Regions from separate parts of the Homo sapiens genome. Here region 2 is linked to region 1. The links come from fine-mapping of genetic effects on gene expression. A gene starts in region 1. The other region holds a variant in brackets. All regions are shown on one strand. Distances are from middle to middle.

Region 1 (4,382 bases):
AAGTTATATTTTACCTAAGTATTGCAAAGCAAATGTAAATTATTAAAACTTGAAATGGTATGAAAGGCTAAAACTAAGAATTTTATTGTGCCACCAACTGGTTTTTATTGAATCAATAGAAATGAATATATTCCACATCCAGCTACACCAAAAATTATCAATATTTTGTGTAAGGATATGCACAGGCAAACCCCCCCCGCCCTCCCCTACCCGACAGCAGCAAACACTGCCCTTAAAAACCCCAAAGATCCAAACGCTCAAGACTCATCCTTGATCCCAAGAACTGCGGCCTGTTTTGATCTCCAGGATACTGGATGAGGGCAATCTCGGGAGACTGAAGTCCAGGACTACAGCCCAAGACCCTAATGTAACAATATAATAATAATAAAAACGGCCGGGCGCGGTGGCTCACACCTGTAATCCCAGCACTTTGGGACGCCAAGGTGGGCGGATCACCTGAGATCACGAGTTCGAGACCAGCCTGGCCAACATGGTGAAACCCTGTCTCTACAAAAATTAGCCGGGCATGGTGGCGCATGCCTGTAGTCCCAGCTACTCGAGAGGCTGAGGCAGGAGAATCGCTTGAACCCGGGAGGCGGAGGTTACAGTGAGCCAAGATCGCGCCATTATTGCACTCCAGCCTGGGCGACAGAGCGAGACTCCGTTCTCAAAAGAAAAAAAAAAAAAGAACAATTTGTGTCATGATTTAGCACAAAAATACTCCCAACGCTTCTTTCATTTTTTAATTGCAATATCTTTAAAACTACATAATTTAAGAGTTTAAATAACATTATAAGAACGCAACTTTTCAAAAAAAATCTATTCTCTTTCAGCAGACAATGGGATAACTGGAAATGACTGCGCCAATTGCATACCCACTTATAAATAGTGTACCCTCTGAAATGTTGTGACCAACGGTTGAATAAAAGTGGCAGGAATCCATAATTGGTAGGTGCAATGTGTGCTAGCTGTCTTCATAAACAAAACTGAAAAAAATCACCTTTCAAATTCCTTAAGTTCGAACCCTAAATACATACCTGAGTAACCAAACCACTAAATACCCCTGAAAACTTAACAAAGCGGGGGAGGAGGGGCCAGGGCTGCCAGCTCCAGGTGGCTGTCAGGTAGATTTCAAATAACCACATAGGAGGACCAAAGGAAAACTTCCGGGAGGCCCTTCTCAATCATCACGCGCACGGAATAACGAAGGTGGCCAGAGAAACATTTCAAAGCCCTGGGAGCGAAAGGGCAGCTTTGCTCACTCCCGGAATCGCAGTCGCTCTGGAACCGCCGCAGCGGGCGAGGCGCCACGACAGAAGCCCGGGCCTCGCGGGTATCACCCGCCGGGTCCAGCGGAAGGCGAAGCGCCGTGCGCGGAGCTGCACCCCGGAGACGTCCCCGCCCGTTGAGGGGCTGCTCCAGCCTGCGGACCAGCCCGTCGCCGTGAGCGGCGGCCCCGGTGTAGCCCTCCCGCCGCCTCTGCTCAGGTTCTCCTCTCAAGAGGCTGACAGAGGCCGCGTCACGCCGAGCACGGCCCACCTGCCGCCCTGCCCCGGGACCTCGGCAAGCGCAGCGCCGCAGGACCCGTTATCCGCCCGCCCGCAGCATCCCGCTCCCAGGCCCGGGGCCGACAGCGGGAGGCCGAGCTCCGCCAAGGCGCGAGGGAACGGCAACCGCGTACCGCCATCGACCCCTGCCCGCTGCCGCCGCTTACCTCGAAGTAGCCTCCGGGGGCGGCGCCGCCCGCGCTCGCGCCCGCGCCGAGAGGCCCGTTGGCCGCCGCCGCGCCGCCCACCAGGCCTGCCGCGCTGCCCGGGGCCGCCAGGCCCGCGGCCTGGGAACCGCGCAGCGCCGCCGCCGGGCCGGCCTTGCCGCTGCTCGCGCCGCCGTTACCCCCGCCCGAGCCGCCGCCGCCGCCCCGCTTGTTCTTCCGGCGCTTGGCCCCGCGCTTGGCGTCGGCTGGGCTCATGGCGGGCGGGGAGAGGGGCGCAGAGCGGGCGCGGGGGCCGCGGGCGGCGGCGGAGGGCGGGGAAGGCGGGGAGGCTGAGGCGGCCGCGGCGGCGGGCGCTCCGGCCAGCCGGGGGGCGCTGCGCGGGGTCGCGTCCGGGTCGGGGAGGGCTGGGGCGGGCGGGAGCTGCGGGGCAGGCCGCTGGGCGGGAGGAACCGCGAGTCCACAGTCCCGGCGCCGCGGCTGACCAGAGTTAGAGTCCAATATGGCGGACACAAGGGGAAAGGGATCCCAGTTTACGTCGGGGGAGGGGGAAGGAGCAGCGGGGAGGGGGAGGGGTGTGGGCCCCCACCCCCCACCCCCACCCCGCCTTACTCCGCCCCCCGGCTCTGCTTTTCCCTTTGCTTGCCCACCCCCTCCTGCCGTTAACGTGCCTCGGCGCGCAGGACACGCCGGGAACTGAAGTCCGTGCTGCCCGTGCAGCAGCTGGGGGTACCCGGGGGTGGACCACGATTCCCGTCAGGCCTTGCGAGGCCGAGGGCCCGGGCGCTGGGAGGAGCTGGGGCCAGGGAGCTGGATGCGGCGGTGATGTCACCGCCTCGCTCGTCGCCGCAGGTCCCGCCCGCGCCGCGCGGCCTTCTGGGCGTTGTGGTCGGGCGTAGGGCTAGGCCGGCAGGAGGCCGCGCCGCCGCCCGCGAGGCAAACTACACGGCTGGCGGCAGGGAGTTCCGCCTCTCTGACCGGTGTCCGCTGCCCGCCCGCCCCGCCCGCCTCGCCCGCGCCCCTGTCCGCCGCCCAGGTGCCGCAGACCGGCGCGGCTCCCGGGATGCACCAGGGGCGGCGCGGCGCGGCCCTGGCCTCGCCAGGAACGCCCGGTGACCTTGGGCTAGTCTAGTTCTGGTCCAGATGACTCAGTGAGGACCACAGAATCCCTGCCTCGTGGGCTGGGCGGGGGTTCGGGCAGCGCTGGAAAGCCGGGCGCGGTGCGGTGGGGTCCGCCTGGGTGCGGAGGCAGCGGCGGAGCCGGCGAATCTTGGACCGGGCCTGGGGCTGGGACACGCCGGTCGGTTCCCCGAGAACCCCTCGCCTAAAGGGTGCTCTTCCCGAGCCCGCCCTCTCCCTGCTATCCCGTTAAGCCCTCTCCAGTGGTCCCGGTGCCTTGCTAATCCACGGGGCCCTAGGACGATCCGGCCGTGTCCCACACCCTCGCACTCACGCACCTCGGGGACGACTAGCCGGGTCAGACCCTCGCAGACGTCCAGATCAGAAATAAGGGCTTGCGTCTGGACCCTCCTCCCTCCGCGGCCTTGCAGACATCTGCGAGCCCCAGGCAGAGCTCTGCCCTGAGACCCGGGCCACGGGGGGACCCTGCCGGCGGCTCCGCCCCCTGGAGGGCCCCGCTTACCACAGACACAGAGGCACAAAGGACATGATTTCCCCTTTTTGGTTCCACCGGTGGTGTCAGGCCGAGAGGCGGCGGGCTTGGCATTGGGATGTACGGCCTGCCAGGCTCCCCTTGCAGCGTTAACCGAGCTCTACTGTTCGTCCTGGGTCCCCGCAACCCGCCCCAGCTGCAGCCACAGCCTCCTGATCCTCTGACCCATTCTTCATGACACAAGCAGAAATCTCATGTGATCAGAAGAAAGCTACCCTTAAAGCCATTCAGATACCATCCTAGACGAAAAAAGGCCCCCCGCCCCATCAGGGTCTTGGATGATCCTGCCACTGAACATGGATTTTGAGAGAGCGGGTAGGAATGCGTTTCTGGCCTCTTTTTCAGTGTCATAGGCTGTCCCTGCCCCTTGCCTCAACCCCTGTCCTTTCCTTTGTCATAGCACATTGCACAGGATTGGGATTCATGATGTCACCAGTATCCCCAAAGACAAAAGGTTTTATTGGGCAGGAGAGAACCTGAGAATGCCTGCCTCACACACCTCTGACACCCAAGCTACTGCAAAGCAAGAGGCTGAGCACCCAGCACTCTACTATTTGCTGAATCAATGAATGACAATAATGACCATTAGGCCTGGGTGCCTTGGCTCATGCCTGTAATCCCAGCAGTTTGGGAGGCCGAGGTGGGCGGATCACCTGAGGCCGGGAGTTCAAGACAGCCTGGCCAGCAAAGCGAAACCCCGTCTCTACTACAAATACAAAAATTAGCTGGGCATGGTGGCACACACTTGTAATCCCAGCTACTCGGGAGGCTGAGGCAGGAGAATCGCTTGAACCCGGGAGGCAAGGGTTGCAGTGAGCCGAAATAGTGCCATTGCACTCCAGCTTGGGCAACGAGCAAAACTCCGTCAAAAAAAAAAGAGGCCGGGCACAGTGTGGCTCTCGCCTGTAATCCCAGCACTTTGGGAGGCCGAGGTGGGGCGGGTCATGAGGTCAGGAGATTGAGACCATCCTGGCTAACACGGTGAAACCCCGTCTCTAC
Region 2 (4,382 bases), 160 kb before region 1:
ATGGTATCTGAACCTGACTGGGAAGACATGGGGCATGCACCCTGACCAAGGGATCCTCTAAAAAATAAATGCGCTGCACTCTTCAAAAAAGTAAAGGTCATGAAAAACAGAGAAACCGATCCAAAGGAAAGGAAATTAAAGAGATACGACATGGGATCCTGGATTGGATCCCATGTCAGGAGAAACAACAAGAGCTTTTTTTTTTTTTTTTTGCTATAAAGGATGTTAAAAGGACAATTGGAGAAACATGAGTAAGGTCTACAATTAGAGAATAGCATTGGATCAGTGTCAACTTCTTCATTTTGATCACTGTACTGTGGTTTTATAAGTGTCTTTATCTTGAGGAAATATACATGGAAGTATTTTAGGTTAAAGGGGTATCATGTATGAAGTGACTCTCCTTCTGTCCAGAAAAATAAGAGAGAGAGGGAGAGAGAGAATAACGAAGCAAACATGGGAAATACTGATGTTGGGGAACTAAAGTTGGGGAACTGGAGGGGGTAGAAATCCTCTCTCTCTCTATATGTATTTTTTGAGATGGAGTCTCTCTGTCACCCACGCTGGAGTGCAACGGCATGATCTTGGCTCACTGCAATCTCTGCCTCCTGGGTTCAAGCGATTCTCCTGCCTCAGCCTCCCCGAGTAGCTAGGATTACAGGTGCACCACCAAGCCCAGCTAATTTTTTTTTGTTATTTTTAGTAGAGACAGGGTTTCAGCATGTTGGCCAAGCTGGTCTCGAACTCTTAACCTCTGGTGATCTGCCCACCCTGGCCTCACAAAGTGCTGGGATTACAGGTGTGAGCCACCATGCCTGGCCCCTCTACGCTCTTTTCTACAGGAGGGAGGCCACATGGCGAGAGCATGCCAAACCCAGTGTTTTCCTATACTAGCACATCACACATGGAAAACCAGGCATCGCTCAGAAATACCTTCCCGCTATTCTGTATTTACCAATTGAATTGTTGACTCTGTCTCCTTTCTTCTTCTTATTTTTCTTGTTCTTGCCCTTTGGCTGAGGGGACTCTGCCAGCACCAGCTTGCTGTTCTGCTGATGCTCACCGGGAGAGGTGGGCTCCATAGGGGTTGGGTTTGACTTTTCGTCCTTGATGTGGTTCAGCTGCTTTTTGTTATTGTTATTACTGTTGACTTTTCTCTCCTCTCTTTTCTGCTCTGTGATGGACATGAGGTCGACCACCTTAGCCTTTGACTCAGTCTGGGCCCGGGGCTTGGACTGCCCCTCTGTGGCCTTGGGGGGCTCTGTGGGCCTCCTCGCTGGCTCGCTGCTGGCCTTGCTGGTCTGCCTCAGCTTCTGCTTGCCATTTCCTTCTTTATGGTGCTGCATGATGTCGAAGAAAAAAGAGAGTGGCTCATGCTGCTTCCCATTCACCTCCTTGGGGAGGAGAAATTTGGAGTCTCTGGTGTCGACGGGGTCTGCAGCATCCCCATCAGCCCCTAGCCCTGGCCTGGGCTCTGAGTGGTTCATATGCCTGGATGGGGAGTGAGAAGAGGTTTCTGGTTCTTCAGTTTGCTCTAGTGAGCCATTGTGGATGTTTCCAGAGTTAGGAACAGACTCTGTTGCTGCCTGGAAATTTCTAGTGAGCATGTCCAACTTGGGGCAGTCTTTACTTGGCCTCTCCTTCTTCTTCTTTTTTACAGCTCTTAGCTTCTGAAGCTCCTGAAGCCGCTGAAATTCCTCCTTGAAACGATCCTCCTCTTCTTCCTCATCCTCCTCCTCCTCCCGCCGCCTCTGCTCCTCCTGGAGGTGCAGGTGCTCCCGGGCCCTGGCCTCTGCTTCTAGGCGAGCTTTCTCCTCCAGCTGCCAATGCAAAAAGAAGGCAATTTAAGACTACAGTGAGTGCTAAAAATTAAGTCATACAGAAAAACTAAGATAATTTCAAAAACGAATCACATATGGAACATAAACTCTGAAGAGGCTGTAATAAATCAAAACTTAACACACACCCACCTCCAATTCTCTTACTCTGCAGGATTGTTAAACTTCATCTATTTACTAAAGTATATGCTTACTTATTTGTGTGTGTGTGTGTGGGGGGGGGGGTGGTAGTTAACAAAAAATTCCCGATAGCCTTTGACCTGGTACTAAACACAGTAACCAAGGACAAAGCAGCTGCAAAGCACACATCCAGGGAGTCAGCTACCCCCTCACAGGTGCGGCAGGGCATCATGCCGCCTGGCCGAGTGGATGATGTAACCAATACCACAGACTGCCCGGGCAGTACTGAGGCTGTACACGTGCCGCCAGAACTCTGAGCAAACCCACCTTTCCAGGCGAAGGCTAATGCATTCACTTGAACAGGGAATGTAAGAAATGTGTACCAGGCTGGTGCAGTGGCTCACACCTGTGATCCTAGGAGTTC[A/G]AGAGCAGCCTGGGCAACATGGCAAAACCCCGTCTCTACAAAAAGTATCAAAATTAGCTGGATGTGAGGGCGCACGACTGTGGTCCCAGCTATTTGGGAAGCTGAGGTTTGAGAATCGCTTGAAGCCAGGAGGTTGAGGCTGCAATGAGCTGTGATGGCACCACAAAAAGCAATGTGTAGTAAAGAACTAGAAATTCCTTCTTCCCACCCTAGCAGATAAACAGAAGTGCCATATATTTTCACTAGTGTGACAGATGTGACAGAGCAAATGACTCACTGTCCAACTTGATGGAAAATTAATTTTCATCCCAAGTAAAGACAGCATTTGAGTAGTGATGCACACAAACTCCAGGGGCACAAATGGAAACTGTTCTTTGTGTTCAGAAAGCAGATGAGAGTCATCAGTGTTAGGAGCACGGCTCCACCCACCACCAACCTTTAGAAATGCTGGGGCTTATGAGAAACTCTGCCAAAAGCATTTCTCCTAGAGAAATAGAAAAGTACTCCCCAAGTGTAAATTATTTTTCACAATATTTTAAACAGGCAAATTGACTTGTCTTTTGAAAAACTTAAAAATTATGATAAAAATTTAACAATGGTATGTTATTAAAAATTTCATTTGACAATTCAAGTAAAAATTATTTAACATCCTTCTCCATGTGTATGTCAGGAGCAGCACCCAGCAGCCACCTCGTGGATGGGTCCTGCAGTCCAGTGTCTAGAGTGAGCTGTGGGCCTGCACGGGAGCAGAGGAGAGACCAACTCCATCAGGACACTCGCTGGCACACACTGGCCAGTTGGCATCCTCTCAGAGCTGATCTAAATCCAGCACACGTGCCTTGTCAATATATGGACAAATAACAAGCATGTAAAGGCAGGTGCCCTGGTCTCCAGCAGAACGGCTGCCCCAGCACAGGCCCCCGGTTTGGACCTGCTACGGGACAGAGTCCATAGGTCAACTATTGCTGTCCCTTCAACAACCAGCCAGCCAGTGAGCCTCAACACACATCTGTGAGCTGCTCTGTAAAATGGGTGCAGCGTAGAAAGCACCAGGAGGTGGTCCCTCGAGGTGGGACTGGGTGCTGGGCAGGGCCTATGACATCAGCCTCTAAGGTTCAGCTGGGCCTCAAGTCTGGATTCAGACCACCTGCAAGGTCAGAGGGCAAGAGCCTGGGGTGGAGAGTACCCTGAAAACTCAGGAAGGCGTCCCAGAGGCCTCCAGTGAATCCCAATGGGACGTCTCAGGGCCTTGGACCATCGTGGGTACCCCGATGCTGGACGCTCCTGAATGGAGGACACACTGTGTTCTCTGCACTCCAGCAGTCTCTAGTCTTCTGGGGCACGGGACAAGGCTTCTCCCCCAAAGCCTCCCAATCAGGCCCAATAGTCAGTCTAAATCTACTGTAGGACTGCGAGGTATGAGCAGAGCTCTTGAGGGTAGAACAATCACAACAGCTAAGATACAAGTAACAACACAGGACATCGGGCCCACCCTCTGGTCCACTGTGGGATCGTCCTCTTCCTCACCTTTTTGCCTGACCATGCTGCAGACAGAAACCTGGCCTCTTCCCAAGACCACTGTCCTACTGTCAGAACCCCAGGAACCTACAAGTTCCCTCTGCATGCAGCCCACATCTGCTCACTGAGGTCTGGTTCTTGGAGCCTGACACTTTTAGGGAGCTGAAACCAGAAGGCTCTTTGGAACTGCTCCAGCATAGGGGCATTTAGACAATCCTCCAAGAGAAAAAAGTTGTCTTTTTTTTTGAGACAGTCTCACTCTGTCACCCAGGCTGGAGGGCAGTGGCATAATCTCGGCTCACTGCAACCTCCACCTCTGAGGTTCAAGTGATCCTCCCACCTGAGCCTCCTGAGTAGCTGGGACTACAGGCGTACACCACCATGACTGGCTAACGTTTTTTGTATTTGACATTTGCTTTTTGTGACACACCATGCCCTCTGGTAAGGAGGGAACTGCTCATGTCTTCCCATGAAGACTTATTTTC

The links. PIP is the estimated chance that this variant, and not a neighbour inherited with it, causes the effect.
Region 2: its variant is fine-mapped to the expression of FAM193A in whole blood (INTERVAL, PIP 0.97).

The regions. Positions count from the first base shown.
Region 1 is chr4:2,534,503-2,538,884 of GRCh38, reverse strand. It overlaps FAM193A (family with sequence similarity 193 member A), which reads right to left and starts at 2,238. Exons shown (of 21, transcript NM_001366318.2): 1 at 1,715-2,238. The coding sequence starts at 1,969. RefSeq lists silencers at 1,235-1,284, 1,029-1,323, 1,325-1,484, 1,535-1,824, 1,905-2,004 and 3 more.
Region 2 is chr4:2,697,115-2,701,496 of GRCh38, reverse strand. It overlaps FAM193A (family with sequence similarity 193 member A), which reads right to left. Exons shown (of 21, transcript NM_001366318.2): 19 at 953-1,817. Among named protein-coding and RNA genes, the nearest start is that of TNIP2, 57 kb to the left of the region's middle. The variant A/G (reference allele first, on the strand shown) is at 2,380.